3 linked regions of the Homo sapiens genome follow. The protein of the gene in region 3 interacts with the protein of the main gene of each other region in a pairwise test. Each region holds a gene or a part of one and is shown on either strand. Other genes may lie near its edges. The genes, in order: TCEANC, ZC2HC1C and KATNBL1.

What was found.
Region 1: the proteins of KATNBL1 (region 3) and TCEANC interact in binary tests that used the Homo sapiens proteins (3 or more experiments, as listed by UniProt).
Region 2: the proteins of KATNBL1 (region 3) and ZC2HC1C interact in binary tests that used the Homo sapiens proteins (3 or more experiments, as listed by UniProt).

Annotation. Positions count from the first base shown.
Region 1 is NC_000023.11:13,659,530-13,663,140, forward strand, and holds part of TCEANC (transcription elongation factor A N-terminal and central domain-containing protein), read left to right. Parts: intron 1-122; 5' UTR 123-157; coding exon of another isoform or gene 158-239; intron 240-1,501; 5' UTR 1,502-1,593; intron 1,594-2,971; coding exon of another isoform or gene 2,972-2,979; coding exon 2,980-3,611.
Region 2 is NC_000014.9:75,072,462-75,076,140, forward strand, and holds part of ZC2HC1C (zinc finger C2HC domain-containing protein 1C), read left to right. Parts: intron 1-3,679.
Region 3 is NC_000015.10:34,200,001-34,203,679, reverse strand, and holds part of KATNBL1 (KATNB1-like protein 1), read left to right. Parts: intron 1-3,679.

The sequences.
Region 1 (3,611 bases), on a different chromosome or scaffold from region 3:
CATTTTATATGTTCTTTTATTGACCTTTTCTTCATATTTCTTTAAAAAATTTTAATTGTGATAAAATATACAAAACATAAAATTTACTGTGTTAAGCCCTTTTTTTTTTTTTTTTTTGACAGAGTCTCGCTCTGTCGCCAGGTTGGAGTGCAGTGGCATGATCTCGGCTCACCGCAAACTCTGCCTCCCGGGTTCAAGCAATTCTCCTGCCTCGGCCTTCCGAGTAGCTGGGACTACAGGTATGCGCCACTACATCCAGCTAACTTTTTGTATTTTTGGTGGAGACAAGGTTTCACCATGTTGGCCAGGATAGACTCGATCTCTTGACCTCATGATCCACCCACCTTGGCCTCCCAAAGTGCTGGGATTGCAGGTGTGAGCCACCACGCCCAGCCTGTCTTAAGCCTTTTTAAGTATACAGTTCAGTAGTGTTATGTACATTCTCGTTCCAGAGGGGAGGTGGGTAGAAGGTGATTGATTCATTGCTCATACCATTTTTCAGTAGGTATATCTTAAGTGCATATAGTTTATCATGAAATTGCGTTAGACCAATAACTTTTCTGATTATGAAAGCAATACATGCTCATCACAGAAAATACAGAAGAGGAAAATAACAAATGAAAATTACCTAAAATCTTACCATTCAGAAAATGCCCCTCTTTAAAATTTTGTGTATCTCTTTTCAGTCTTTTCACATGTAATTCTTAAATAAAATTTGGATCAAATTCTATTTTTAAATAACACCTTTATTCAGATGTAATTCACGCACCATACAGTTCACCTAAAGTGTACAATTCAGTGTTTTTTAGTATACTCAGTTGTATAACCCATCACCACAAATAAATCTTGAGAAGATTTATGTGTGCCACCACCTCCCAAGAAAATCCCTGAACTTTATCAGCTGCTCCTCCTCCTTCACCCCACTGCCCTTCTGCCCTACCCTACCTAGTCAACAACTGATCTATTTTCTGTCTCTATAGATTTGCCTGTTTTGGACATTTCATGTAAATAAAATCATACAATATGTGGACTTTTCTGTCTGGCTGCTTCTGCTCAGCATAATGTTTTCAAGGTTCATCCATGTTGTAACTGTATCAATACTTCATTCCTTTTCATGGCAGAATAATATTCTGTTGTGTGGATAAATCACATTTTATTTATCCATTCATCAGTTGATGGACATTTCGATTATTTCCCATTTTTGGCTATTGTGAATAATACTGCTATGAACATTTGTATACAAGTTTTTGTGTGGACATATGTTTTCATTTCTCTTGGATCTGCTGGGTCATATGATAACTGGTTTATTCATTTATTTATTATTATTTTTTTTTAGACAGAGTCTTGCTGTGTTGCCCAGGCTGGAGTGCAGTGGCACGATCTTGGCTCACTGCAAACTCCGCCTTCCAGGTTCATGCCATTCTCCTGCTTCAGCCTCCCAAGTAGCTAGGACTACAGGTGCCCGCCACCACACCCGGCTAATTTTTTGTATTTTTAGTAGAGATGGGGTTTCACCATGTTAGCCAGGATGGTCTCGATCTCCTGACCTCGTGATCTGCCTGCCTCGGCCTCCCAAAGTGCTGGGATTACAGGGTGAGTCACCATGCCCGGCCCATATGTTAACTGTTTAGTCTTTTATATAGTTTTACATCTTGATTGTTTTTCACCTAACTTTATGACCATTTTTCCATGTCGTTAAATATTATCTAAATACATGATTTTTAAATGGTTATATTACTGTATCCTAGGAGTGTGCCATATTTTTAACCATTCTCCATTTAACCATTTGAGGGCCTTCTAATTTCTCCTTAGAAGAAAATTCTTACATATGCAGTCTCCACATCTCTCATTTCCTTAAAGTAAATTTATGGAAGTAGAATTACTAAAAGGTCATTATGTTTTATGTCACTTGTCATATGGTGTCTGGGAAGACTGCGTGAATTCTCTCTCTAAACACTTCAGTGTTCTTAGCCTGTGTATGTTCGGTGGTGATTATTTAATATCAAGTGCTATAAAACAGAGCCCATGGATTTTTGAAAAGACACAGTCCCTGCCATCAAGATGCTTATGTTCACATTTAGACCAGACAGATAAATATAGATCCAAGGGTATTATATAGACAAGATTATGTACATTATGTGGAGGGAAAAAATAGACTGCATAGATAAAAGTAAACATTTGCCTGCCTAGGATGAAATTCACACAGACATAATCATTGAGCAACTCTTTACACTTAAAAATTTTTTAAAAATTAACAAAACCAAAATGTAAGAACCAGTTAGTCTAAAGTCATAAATCATCTGGATCATTGAGTCTGAACCTTTCCCTTGTTCAGAAGACTCCTAAGGCAGCACAGTGTAGCCTGTTGGCTTTTGGGACCCGCAGACGTATCTCTAGCTGCTTTTCAACCTGTGCTGTCTCACATTTTCCTTAGATTGCTTGAGACATTAGCAAACCCTTTCTGTCTTGTTTCTCTTTTATTTTCAGAAGAGTACCACTTTAAAGATTATGAAATGAGCAAGTAGTTCAGTTATATAGCTGACTCTGGGGAAAAATTGTCTAGCACTGTTCAGCATTGCCATATTGATGCTGACACCGGCATGATTTCACCTCCAACATGACCACCGGATTCCGCCCAAATGGATTGACTAATCTAGAAAGATCATTGATTTGTAAAATTGGAGGTGGAAAAGCTATAGCAGATCCTCCGGCAAGCCTCTTAAGCAGATGTTATGTAGAGGCTCTGCAATGCTGTTTGTTTGTTTTTCACTCGTAGGAATTAAACTCTTGAGAGTAAACCATACCGTCACCTTAAAGATTCCATTTTCTAGCGTGTCGCATACATTTGTATTACATGACTCTTTCGGAAAACATTGCCTAGGTAACTGACAGAAAGTGCTATTTTAGTATCCAGAAGCTGCGACTAGCAACGGCAAACTTAAGAAAACTGAAACCTCTTTTTTCTTTGCAGCTGTAAAGATGTCTGACAAGAACCAGATAGCTGCCAGAGCTTCTCTTATTGAGCAACTGATGTCCAAAAGGAATTTTGAGGATCTTGGCAACCACCTTACTGAGCTAGAAACAATTTATGTGACTAAGGAGCATCTCCAGGAGACAGATGTGGTCAGAGCTGTGTACAGAGTCCTCAAAAACTGCCCCTCTGTGGCTTTGAAAAAGAAAGCCAAGTGTTTGCTATCAAAGTGGAAAGCTGTTTATAAGCAGACTCACTCCAAAGCGAGGAACAGCCCTAAATTATTTCCTGTGAGGGGTAATAAAGAAGAAAATTCAGGACCTTCTCATGACCCAAGTCAGAATGAGACACTGGGCATCTGCAGCTCGAATTCTCTGTCTTCCCAAGACGTTGCAAAACTCAGTGAAATGATTGTGCCTGAAAATAGAGCCATTCAATTGAAACCTAAGGAAGAGCATTTTGGGGATGGTGACCCTGAATCCACTGGCAAGAGATCGAGTGAGTTGCTGGATCCCACAACACCCATGAGAACTAAATGCATAGAGCTTCTTTACGCAGCTTTAACTAGTTCTTCCACAGATCAACCCAAAGCTGATTTGTGGCAAAACTTTGCAAGAGAAATTGAAGAGCATGTTTTTAC
Region 2 (3,679 bases), on a different chromosome or scaffold from region 3:
AATTAAGTTTGGAATTCTTTTTCTGCCCATTTAGAATGTAAACACCTTGAAGGTAAAAAGGACTTTCTTTCTGGTTATCTTACAAACCATGCCCTTGCCAATTATTTCTCACTTTAGAAAAACCAGGTTGGAAAAAGTAAGGGTTTCGTGACACTTACATGATAAATTTAGGTGAACTTCATAGGCACATTTGGACATATCTGGAGAAGATTGTCTCATAAATGAATGACATGTCAAGGTTGTGCCACTTGGTTTATAAAATGGTTATTTCTCAAGGTGTGGCATGCTGACAAACTTTATTTTAGTAGTTTTAGTGTTTAGTGTTGTATTAGAAAAATTGATTCGTCGTTTAGTGTTATATTAGGAAAATATAACAATATATTAAGCCCCTGATTTCCAGGGATCATGAATTTACAGAAAAATATTAATTAGTTGTAAGGATGAAGTGAAAGTGCAGATGATTGAAGTTTGGGAAAGCGTAGATCATATGATCTCAGAGGCCCCATCTAGTTCTAATATTCCAGAAGAATAAGAGAGTGTCATTCTGTTTTCATTTCTTCCCAACCCTCCCTCCGCTGTGCTGGCACCTCTTGTCCATTGGCACTTTACAGTTTCTGTGTATTTGCTGGAGCCTTTAAAAACTCACATTTATATGATGGTTGTTAGAAGAAATTGTTTACAATTAGAGTTCTTTCTTTTAGTAGTTTGGAGAAATCACAAGGAAGTCCCATCCATGTTCAGAGATCATCTCCCTGAAATCTAGTTTCCAAAGAAGAAATCAGCATTTTGCTCTTGCAGATAATAATATGATCACCACTTACTGTTTTTTCCTGTTTTCTTTCAGTTCAACCCAGTAATCCACTGGGAATTCACTCTATGTCCCACTGTAGCGATTTATTTTTGGCCAGAGCCTAAAAGAATCTTGTGTTTCTTAAATTCGTAAATACAGTTACGGTGAAGCAAAATAATTAGGTTCCTGAGATCAGATGCTCCAGCTTTATGGCAACTAGTTTGTGGGAATGTGTGACATTGAGGACACCAAGACAGAAGGGACCTAGACTAAGATGCACCTGCACCACCCTGGTAATGTCTCAAATCTTATTCCACAGTGCTGTGCCTTTGGAAGCTGAGTGGTTGTACCTTCCTGTCATTCCTCTAGAGTACTCAAGAACAGGTGATTTTCCTGGTATCCTTTAATCTTCACGTAACTCCCAGCAGACGTACACCCTGTCTCTCTCCTGGACTGTAAGCATTTTTGAGGACAGGGAACATATTTTGTGCTTTGTGCTTAATAAGTGTTAACTGAATAGAATTTCAGTACAATGAGGAATAAAATTATAGGAATTAGAGTATAAGAAGTAAATTACTAAAGGATCTCATATACTTGAGGAACTTTCCCCTGATCAAATTCTTTGAGAGGAACTTTCCCCTGATCAAATTCTTTTTTTGAGACCGAGTCTCGCCCTGTTGCCCAGGCTGGAGTGCAGTGACGCGATCTCGGCTCACTGCAGCGATCTTGGCTCACTGCAGCCTCCACCTACCGGGTTCAAGCAATTCTCTGCCTCAGTCTCCTGAGTAGCTGGGATTACAGGTGCCCGCCACCACACCCAGCTAATTTTTGTATGTTTAGTAGAGACGGGGTTTCACCATCTTGCCCAGGCTGGTCTTGAACTCCTGACCTTGTGATCCACACGCCTCAGCCTCCCAAAATGTTGGGATTACATGCATGAGCCACCGTGCCTGGTCTTCGAATTCTTTTAAAGGTTCCTGGATACCATCGCTAATACTCTCTTGCCTTCTTGTCTGTTTTGGCAAGAGACTTTCTGGAAGGATCCTTTCTTTTCCTTTGATAGTATCTCTTCCTATTATTCATCATTAACAATGCCAGATCACCAAGAGCTAGTTGTCTTTTTTCTCTTTAAAAAATTTAATAGTGTTTGCATGCATTTAAAAAACATGTAGTACTGAATGACCTATAATGGAACCCCTAATTCAGCCCCCGGAGGCAGCCTTCAGTTCTGTTAGATGGTTCTTCTGGTCTGCCTTTCCATATTTCCAAATAATATGCTTATTTTCTTGATTTATCAATTTTCTACATTACCTGTTTTTTTTTGTTTTGTTTTGTTTTTTTTGAGACGGAGTCTCTGTCGCCCAGGCTGGAGTGCAGTGGCTTGATCTTGGCTTACTGCAACCTTCACCTCCCGTGTTCAAGCAATTATTGTGCCTCAGCCTCCTGAGTAGCTGGGCTTACAGGCGAGTGCCACCACGCCCGGCTAATTTTTGTATTTTTAGTTAAGACAGGGTTTCACCAAGTTGGCCAAGTTGGTCCTGAACTCCTAACCTCAAGTCATCTGCCCACCTCGGCCTCCCAGAGTGCTGGGATTACAGGCGTGAGCCACGGTGCCTGTTCTACCTGGTAACTTCTTATGGAAGCTGGGAGTGAAGTTCTCTTTCATATTCCCTCTCTCCTACTGTTCTCTTTCTCTTATCCTTCCACTGTAGTCGAATCACAATTTTTGGTTAAAAGTAGTTAGCTTTCACATTGTAATGATCAAGTAAATTTTGTTCATTAATGAGTGAACAAATTCTGTCTCTGCCCACATGTACCTAAAATTAATAATGGACGTATGTTTTCATTTCCTTCATTTTCTACATACCTGTCTTTTTCTCCCCCGCAACGATCCATCTGATATCAGACATCTGTTAACGTTTTTGTAATGCTCAAACACCTCTCATAATCTATCAGTTTGATTTTTTAATTCTGAAAACCTCCCTTCAGCCACTCTGATCCCTTCTGCTCCAACCTGGACTGGGTATTCTCTAGGCCTGGTGCAAACTCATTCTCTTGGAACTTCTCTTTGCTTCTCTTCTTTGTTGGGTCCTCTGTTTCCAGCATCCTGTGTCTTCCTTTTTCTTGCATTACTCCTTCCTTTGCTGAAGCTTACTAAGAAGGGTGCATAGCAGGTATATTGTCTTGGAATGAATGACACTATCTATATGACAGGCTCCCATTTGATGATTTGGCTAGGTACAGAATTCTAGGAGGAAAATGATTATCTGTTAGAACTTTTAAAGTATTTCCCACTAGCTTTTAGCATCCAGTGTATTGTTGTGAAATCTAATGCCATTTTGATTCCTGTTCCATTACAAGAAACCTTTTTTTTTAAAAGGCTACGGGATTCTCTATTTATTTTGAAATTCTGAAACTTTACAATAATTGTGCTAGATACTTGGTAAGCCATTTCAATCTCAAAATGTGTGACCTTTAATTCTAGGAATGTTAATTGTATTATTTCCTTAATAATTTTCTCCTCACCAGGTGCTGTGGCTCACGCCTATAATCCCAGTACTTTGGGAGGCTGAGGCAGGTGGATCACCTGATCTCATGTGTTCAAGACCAGCCTGACCAATATGGTGAAACCCCATCTCTACTAAAAATACAAAAATTAGCCGGGCGTGGTGGCGCACGCCTGTAGTCTCAGCTACTTGGGAGGCTGAGATAGGAGAATCGCTTGAATCTAGGAGGCTGACGTTGCAGTCAACCAAGATTGCGCCACTGCACTCCAGCCTGGGTGACAAAGCAAGACTCCATCTCAAATAACAACAACAACAAAAACAAAACAAAACAAAACAACAATAATTTTCTCCTCGTGCTTTCTCTGTTCCTTCTGCAACTCTT
Region 3 (3,679 bases):
AAGTGTATCTATTCTAGGTACAATGAACATGGTTCCTGCTCTCATGGAGCTCACAGTCTAGTGAGAGGTCATGGGCAATAAGTGCATAAGCTAATTTCCAGATGGTGATAAATGTGGTGGGGGAAAAATACAGGGTACTGCTATAGAGAATGATTGTAAGTGAGGGTGGGGTTATTCTTGATTGGGTGGTGAGTGTGTGGGAGGAATATTTTAAGCAGAAAGAATGGCTCAGCCACAAAATGGAAATAAGTTTGAAATGTTGAAGGACAGAAGGCCAGTGTGGCTGAAGCATTTAGGAAGCTATTATATAGTCTAAAGGAGTTGGTGGTTTGGTCTAGAATGGTGGTAATGGAAATGGAAAGAAACGGACAGCTTGGGAATATATTATAAAGGCAAAGTCAACAAATTGGATGTAGGTTATTAAGGAAAAAAGAAATCAAGGATGAATCCTTTATTTCAGGCTTGAGAAATTGGAAGGAGGATGGTTCCGTTTACTGAGTTAGGGACTGTTGGGAGGAGCAGATTTGAGAGGGGGGATATTAAGGGTTCTATTTTTAATATGTTAAGTTCAAGAATAGATGACTATTGGATATCCATGTGGAGCTGGCTAGTAGGCAGTTGGAGATTTGAATCCAGAGTTTAGGTGAAACAGTATGATGAGAGATTTTATTTATTTATTTTTATTTTTTTTGAGACAGAGTCTTGCTGTCGCCCAGGCTGGAGTGCAATGGCGTGATCTTGGCTTACTGCAACCTCCGCCTTCCGGGCTCAAGCAATTCTTCTGCCTCAGCCTCCCCAGTGGCTGGGATTACAGGTGCCTGCCACCATGCCCAGCTAATTTTTGTATTTTTAGTAGAGATGGGTTTTCACCGTATTAGCCAGGCTGGTCTCGAACTCCGGACCTCAGGCAATCCGCCCACCTAGGCCTCCCAAAGTGCTGAGATTACAGGCGTGAACCACCGCGCCTGGCCGAGATTTTATTCTTAAATGAAAGTTAATATGTTAATTTTTGTTATAGTTAAGTCTTGGACACAGGAGTCATATTTTCTTGAGCCTGCAAGTGATTCTTCTGTTGGAGAAGAAAGTGTTCCCTGAGAGAGGAGGCATTTTCAAACCTTAATATACGTTCTGATTTCAGCCTAGGAGATATGGTGGTGCCCAACCACTGTAACTGTTGGGGATGTAATATAATCCTCACAAGTTTTGGAACATAAAGGTTTAAGAACCGTTGTTATAAAAAGATTTTGAATGTCTCTAGTATCATTTTTGTTAATTCTTAAAGGATGATCTACCCTTTTTTCCAAGGCTTAGGGTATACTTAACCCTGTTGACTTCTGGTACTGTAGAAATTAGGCACAAGTGTCGTAGGGTGGTGACATTAGTCCAAATAATGAAGATAGAGTTTTTTAATTAATTTATATTAGCTCATCATTTTGAGAGTTGAATACTACTTTATTGGTATATCCTCTCATATGTAGAGAGTCTATTGGTTTTGAAAGTATCAGAAATACCTTTAGTAGGCAAACAAGGGTCAAAAATGATCCTTAAAGTGACAATGTTTTATGTATGTATACATTCATCCCTCATTATCTATGGGCGATTGGTTCCAGGACCTCCCAATGATATCACAATCCGAGGATGCTCAAATCCCTGATATAAAGTGGTGTAGTATTTCCACATAACCTTTGCACATCCTCCCATACACCTTAAATAATTTCTAAATTATTTGTAATATCTAGTACAATGTAAATGCTATGTAAATAGTTGTTATACTGTATTATTGGGGGAATAGTGATGAGAAAAATAAGTCTACATATTCAGTAGAGATGTATTTTTTTTCTAAATAGTTTTGATTGGGAATTGATTGAATCCACAGATGCTGAACCCACGGATACAGAGGGCCAGTTGTATATATATTTTCCATTTCTGAGTCCAAGAAGACAATTAAAACAGAATCAAGTATTTTTTCCTCCCTGTTGAATATTTCCAGAAAATACTGGGTTATTCTAACAGGGAAAGTAAATTGGAATTTGGCGAATTCACCAAAACATGCTAGAATAATCATAACCATCTACTTCTAGGCGTAAGAAGTCCTAAGTCTTCCCAAAGATTCAGGTGTTTTATAGCCATTTAAGAAAATATGTATATAATACTCTAATACATTATAATTAAGTTAAAACATACTTGCACATTATACAAAATTCAAAAGGCCCAAAAGGGAAAAGTCTTCTCCCTTCACCCCCTAGCCACACATATCCTCTCACTAGAAGTGACTTTTGTCCCCAGTTTCTCTCATATCCTTCAAAAGATATTTAGTGAATATACAAGTAGTCCCTCACAGACACACACTTTTTAACCTAAGTGGTAACATAGTGTTTTGCTACCTTACTTTTTTCTCCCTACTTTCCAGTATAAGGCATAGTTATGTTTTTTAAAAAGCCTGTGTAGGTCCACAACTATGGATGGTGATAAACATCTACCTAGTTCTTTAATTTTATTTTCCCATTATTAGTCCCAGTTCCCTAATGTAGTAATCTAAGTGGACTTGATTAAAACTGAGGAAGAGGCCGGGTGTGGTGGCTCAAGCCTGTAATCCCAGCACTTTGGGAGGCCGAGGAGGGCAGATCACGAGGTCAGGAGATCGAGACCATTCTGGCCAACATGGTGAAACCCTGTCTTTACTAAAATACAAAAAATTAGCCAGGTGTGGTGGTGTGCACCTGTAATCCCAGCTACTTGGGAGGCTGAGGCAGGGGAATCGCTTGAACCTGGGAGGCAGAGGTTGCAGTGAGCTGAGATGGCGCCACTGCACTCCAGCCTGGCGACAGAGCAAGACGCTGTCTCAAAAAACAAAACAAAACAAAACAAAAACACTGAGGAAGAGGTAGTAGGAAAGCTAATTCCCACTTGGCATCTCTTTTGTAATTTTTATTTCAGGGTATCTCAGTCATAAGAGAGTTGGAATTCAGTTTGATCCAAATTGATTGAAATGATATAGTATTGTACCCACTGAATCTCCAGACATCTGTCTTTATTTTCATGCTTGATCTGCTTTCCCGAGTTTGACGTTATTTCTCAAATCAGCTTACTGTGGAAAACTGAATTAAGAGAAAGTGGTGGGCGGGGCGTGGTGGCTCACGCCTGTAATCCCAGCATTTTGGGAGGCTGAGGCAGGTGGATCAAGAGGTCAGGCGTTCGAGACCAGCCTGGCCAATATGGTGAAACCCCATCTCTACTAAAAATACAAAAAAAAAAAACAATTAGCTGGGCGTGGTGGCACGCACCTGTAATCCCAGCTACTCAGGAGGCTGAGGCACGAGAATCTCTTGAATGCGGGAGGCGAAGGTTGCAGTGAGCCGAGATGGCGCCACTGCACTCCAGCCTGGGAGACAGAGGAAGACTCCATCTCAAAAAAAAAAGAAGAGAGAGAGAGAAAGTGGTGTGATGAATCATCATTCAGGAAATATTAAACCCTTGAGATATCAACTTTGAGTTGTTCCGAGTAGGTGAGAGGTGAAGCCAGCTGGGTTTCTGGGTTGGGTGGGGACTTGGAGAACTTTTCTGTCTAGCCAGAGGATTGTAAATGCACCCATCAGTGCTCTGTGTCTAGCTAGAGGATTGTAAATGCACCAATCAGGATTCTGTAAAAATAGACCAGCACTCTGTAAAGTGGACCAAT